Linked DNA regions of Homo sapiens: region 2 is linked to region 1. The links come from fine-mapping of genetic effects on gene expression. Tissue or cell type: whole blood. Region 1 holds a variant in brackets; the other region holds the start of a gene. All regions are shown on one strand. Distances are from middle to middle.

Evidence for each region. PIP is the estimated chance that this variant, and not a neighbour inherited with it, causes the effect.
Region 2: ZNF862 starts here. The variant in region 1 is fine-mapped to the expression of ZNF862 in whole blood (TOPMed, PIP above 0.99).

The regions. Positions count from the first base shown.
Region 1 is chr7:149,861,958-149,864,780 of GRCh38, reverse strand. ZNF862 (zinc finger protein 862) reads right to left here. Exons shown (of 8, transcript NM_001099220.3): 7 at 2,287-2,823; 8 at 1-672. The coding sequence ends at 497. Among named protein-coding and RNA genes, the nearest start is that of ATP6V0E2-AS1, 10 kb to the left of the region's middle. The variant A/C (reference allele first, on the strand shown) is at 1,277.
Region 2 is chr7:149,836,698-149,839,362 of GRCh38, reverse strand. It overlaps ZNF862 (zinc finger protein 862), which reads right to left and starts at 988. Exons shown (of 8, transcript NM_001099220.3): 1 at 728-988. The coding sequence starts at 751. RefSeq lists a silencer at 453-912.

The DNA.
Region 1 (2,823 bases):
CCAGGGTAGGAAGTCCCAGAACAATGCCTCTGGGGGCTCTTGCAGCCAGGCCAGCTGTCCCTAGAGCAGGGGCAACCTCCCCCTCTAACAAGGTGGTCTTTCCCATTCCCACTTAGACTGTGGGCAGCCTCCCTGGAACATTCCCCAGGGATGTCCAACAGTCTCCCCTACCAGGACACTCCTCTTGCCACCAAAACTCAGGGGCTGAAACCTTTCATGATGGGGTTATTTTCTGCAGCACCTTAAAAATGAACTTGAGATATAGAACCTTCTGGCACATTTGTGTGCTGTGAGGCATGGCTGTGCTGAGTGGGGCCTCAGGAAACAGGTCATGCACCTCCTGATACCCCTGCTGCTCTGGGATGCCACTGCCCACTTCCTGGTGCTTAGAGACCATCGCCACCAGCAGAAGATCCTAGGGCAGCCTAGAATCTGCAGAGCCTGTCCCAGTGATCACAGAGGCGTCTCCAAGGCAGTCCCAAGGACTCCCTGTCCCTCAGGACATCCCGGGGGCCTCCTGGCTGGTGTGGGGATACAGGAGTCTCTCGGGAGGCTCCATGATGCAGTCCTTCAGAACCTCCGCTGCTTCCCTGGAGGGCAGGATGGGTGGCTTCTGGGTCCTGGGCTCCTCCACATAGAGGGCTCCCATCTCCTCCTTCCTGAGCCTGGCGCCTGTGAGGGAGGAAGGAGAATACAATTAGACTGACTGACAGTGACCGCCTTCCACATCCAGCTTCGCCCAGGGGCTGTTTGGTGAGGAAAGCTTGGCAGAACAGACTGAAGTCAGGACCACGACTGCTCTTTGCAGCCCTCATCTGTTGCTACTCTGTTCATTCTTTTATCCTGAGATAGGGGATCTCAACTGGGGGCGATTTTGTCCCCCAGGGGCCATTTGCCAATGTCTGGAGATGATTTTTGTGGTCACAAATGGGGTGTGTGCTACTGGTATCCAGTGGTTATCTAATAGGTAGAGGCCATGGATGCTGCTCAAGTTCCCACAGTGAACAGGAAGGGCCCCCAACAGAGATTACCCAGCCCCAGCATCAACAATGCCAAGGCTGAGAGCCCTGCCTGGAAGGAGGCAGCGGTGCGTAGTTTGGCAGTGTTTGGACCAATCTGTGCTGGTCCTGTTGTCCCTGTGGAAAGAGTAACTCGCATCAGGGCACACCTGACATCATTTTTTTCTCCTTAGCACCCACAGGGCTGGACACAGAGCAACTCACCCAGCCCTCTCTCGGCTTTCCCTTTCTCTTATCAGTGAGGGGTCTCTTTTCTT[A/C]TCCCCACCTGCCCTACTGTGGCTTCAGGGCCACCTTGCTTCCTACAGAGCCTCTGTCAGCCATGAGATCCAGTCCCATTTCTGGTGACCACAGACTCAGAGGTGAAAACTGGGAGCAGCAACAGCCGGAAGGAGGCCAGCTAGAGACGCGAGGAGAGAGAGCACTGGGAGCAGCAACAGCCGGAAGGAGGCCAGCTAGAGACGCGAGGAGAGAGAGCACTGCTCCATCCTTGTCAAGTGGTCGCGAGTGGTCTGGAGAACCCCAACAATGGGCATATTTTCTTTGGTTTTCAGTGACTACTTGAAGAGAAAAATTTCCTGTCTGTGGCTTTCAGTAACTTGCCCTCCCTTCTAATACAGCTTCCCCCTCAAGCAAGTTCTTGACCCCAGCCCTCCGGTCCAGAGAGGCTGTTTCTGTTCTCCCCTGCCCCGTGAGATTTCTGCCTGAAAGCCCCACCATCTCCTCCGCATCTCACCTCCTCCACAGCCACATGGACCTCTTCCCTCTTGAAAATTCCTGCACGGTCCAGAGTCTATACAGCCCCACTTAGAATGTGATGGCGCTGCCTGGGGCTGGTCAGCCCTCTCCTTACTCCCAGCAGTGGTCTTGACCTTTAACTAGTACCATTTGCACCACCTGCCAGGCATTGTCCTGAGTGTTTTCCACACACAACTCATTCGGCAGATGAGAAACCAAGGCATCAAAGGACAGACTTGCCCAAGGCCACACAGCCAGTTGGGGGCAGAGCCAGCACAGCACTGTCACCAGGGCAGACAGGCTCTAGAAATGCACGCTCTCTGCACTAAGCCCTGCTGCCTAGAGCACATGTGCGTCATCTCCCTGGCAGGGGTGCAAGCTCCTGGAGGGTGGATGTCACGCATCGAGTACCCACTGGCCTAGCAAATGGGTGGGTGCATGACAGAAGCTCCACAGGCACCTGCAGTCCTGTCTTATTGGCCTCTGGCTCAGCATGAGGCTGCCTTGGGGGAGCTCTGCCACGTGTACTTACTTGCAGGGGAGCGGGCTGGCACCTGGGCACAGGTGTAGACATGGCTGAAACGCCGGCCTGAGGAGGTCAGGTACCAGTGCTGGATGGCGGGCTGGGGGTCGTACTCCGTGACGGCCACGCCGTTCACAGCTGTCATCATGAGCATGTTGAGCACCTCGTTGGAGAGCTTGGTCCTCTCATCGGTCCTGATTCGGTTCATGGCCTTGAACCCCCGCTCACAGCAAGAGGTGGAGATGGGCACACAGACCACCACGGCCATGAGCTTGCTTAGCAGGGGGAAGCGGCAGTGCTGGGCCAGGGCGTTTTTGCAGAGCATGGAGAACGGGAGGTGCTGGGCAATGGTTTTCAGGCCCAGCCACTCCTCCAGCAGAGCTTCCTCACTGTATCCTGTTGGGAGGGAGCACTCGAAATACCTGGCCAGGTTGAGAATGTCATCATTCCCAAAACTGGCAAGTTCAATCCCACTTGGCCAGGCCATGGTGTCAAACACCTCCATGTTCTTCAGCTGTGGGGGTCGGTCTGCGTCAAACCTCTGCT
Region 2 (2,665 bases), 25 kb after region 1:
CAAGAACTGGCAGCAAACAACATCCAGAAAGATGTTAGTCCCAAGAGGCTGCCACTGTCTCCAAGCTAATGTGCCCACAACCACACTGGTCTTGGATGACACGGCCTGGAAGCGCTGGCAATCCCGTCAAATCCCTGAACTCCGCCCCCAAGCACTTTCTTTCCACCTTTTCTTCCAACTCAAAGCCTCTTGCCCAAAGCCAATTTATGACACAGGTTTCTAAGCAATGCCCAGATATTCCATGAAGTACATAACCTAGAAACAGAAGTGGCAAAAAGCATGCCAGATGCCCTCTCTTTTCAGCCCTTTCTTGGTAAGGAGGATCTAGGCAGGGTCAAGCCCTCAAGCGTCCCACCCTGCAGCTCCCACTGGCGTCCGATCCAGACTCCAAGCCTTAGCAGGGCCTCTTCAAAACGCCGAAGGTGGTGGGGAAAACAGGAAGCACCTTCGCATCGCTCCACTCGGGGGTCACCCAACCCAGCATCGACCCAGCGGACGCTCGGCAGCTCGGGGAGGATGCGCGGACACCGAACGGAAGCGTCCGCTCCTCTCCGCCACCCTCCCGGGGTCGGGCGCCGAAGTGCGGGAAGAGAGGGCGGGCCGGCGAGTCCTTCCCTGCAAGCCTGGCTCATCTGCGGGGCCTCCGCCCGAGCCGCCCCGCCTCGCCCGAGCCCGGCTCGGGGATCCTCGGGAGGGAGCGGGCGGCCCCCGGGCCTTCCAGTCCTACCTTCCCCGACTCTCTGGGCTCCATGGCCCCGCTTTCGGAGGCCCGTGCCGCCCCCTCCCCCCGCGGCCTGGCCTGAGGATGCAGCCGCCGCGACCGCCCCGGGGACCCAGGCTCCCGGAGGGGGAGGGCACCCAGGTAGGGAGGGAGCGCGGCCCAAGAACTTCGCTCTCTCACGTCGGGGGGCGGTAGCGCCGGTGGACCCAGGATAAGCGCGCTGAGCTGAGACTTGCGTCGCACCGAGCGAACAGCTTTACGGTCACTGCCCAGCCCCAGGCGGCGGGGCGTGACGGGAAGTGTAGTCCGCTCTAGGTGAGCGGCTCTCGAAGCTGCTATTGGCTCCCGGAACGCAGGTCCTGATTGGACGCCGGCGGCGCGCTTGCGACCCTCCCCGCCTCCCTCCGGCGACAGTTACTAGGCAACGGCGGCGTGGCGTCCTTTAGTCCTCTGCAGCAAGGGCAAAGCGCTCTGATTGGGCTACGCGAAGGCCAATGTCAGCCTTGAAGTTCTAGGTTTTCTTTTATTAAGGAGGGCAATACTTTTTGTTCTATTCACTCAAAAAGTATCATTGGTTGCCTACCATGGGTCAGGCCGTGTTCTAGGGTTTGGGAGAACACAGTTGAATGAGACAAAGGCCTTGCCTTCAAGGAACTCACGATCTATTAGGGAATCAGACCAGAAACAGATAATTACAAAACAGAGACAAGGGCTATGAAAGAGGTAAGCACAAAACATGAATTAAAGCCCGCGTTGTCACCTTAGAGTGAAGCGGTGGGGGATATGAGGTGCTTAGTCAAGGATTTCCTGCGGAAGTGATGCCTCAGCAGAATTAAAGCAAGAGGTAGGGTCTGCCAGGTAAAGGAGGTGCAATGGACTGACCGGTGTTCCCCTCCCAGGAGATGGGGCGTTTGGGAGGTTTAGATGAAGTCGTGAGGGTCAGGCCCTTATGGTGGGATTAGTGTCCTTATAAGAAGTTTTGTCCAAGTGCGGTGGCTCACACCTCTAATCCCAACTCTTTGGGAGGCTGAGACAGGAGGATCACTTGAGCCCAGTAGTTTGAGACCAGCCTGTGCAACACAGTGAGAGATCCCATCTCTATAAAAATAAAATAATTTTGTGAGGTGGAAGGATCACTTGAGCCTGGGTGGTCGAGGCTGCAGTAAGCCGGGATGGCGCTTCTGCACTCCAGCCTGGGTGACAGAGCAAGACCATGTCTCAAAAAAAAAAAAGACTTTTAGGGGGCCAGGGCAGGGATGTGCCTTCATGAAGGTGTTAGTGACCACATGCGTGCTGGGGGAACTAGCTAGGCCCTTTGCCCTTCTGCCCCTCTGCCTTCTGCCATGTGAGGACAGAGCAAAAAGGTGCCCTCCTGGAAGCAGAGACCAGGCTCTCACCAGACACAGACACTGCTGGTGCTTTGATCTTGGATTTCCCAGCCTCCAGAATCATAAGAAATAAGTATCCATAATTTATAAATTACCTAGTTCCAGGGATTTTGTTACAGAAGCACATAGAGATTAAGACAATGGTCAACTAATTTTTTTGTATTTTTAGTAGAGACAGGGTTTCACCATGTTACACAGGCTTCAAGTAAGCGTTTTCCATTATCCAGCTCTGCTCTTCTGGCCAAGGTTGAATAGACCTAAATTCCGTTCGAGGAGTGTAGGGGAGTCTGCATTACTGAAAAAAAGAATGAGACACAAGAAATGTGGAGGAGAAGGCAGAGAGTGAGGACTCTGTGGATTCCAAGTGGCCTGCCACTCACCACCTCGACTATATCACTACCTTGAAGAGCTATATTTCTGCCCATGAGTTATCCATGTCTTTATAACAGATTCTCTTTTAGGGGTTAAAAAACTGGAGGACAGCTAGGGTAAATCATTCTTTTGACACATTTTTCCATAAAAGGTTTTCCATCTTTCCAAGAAAAATGGAGCAGTA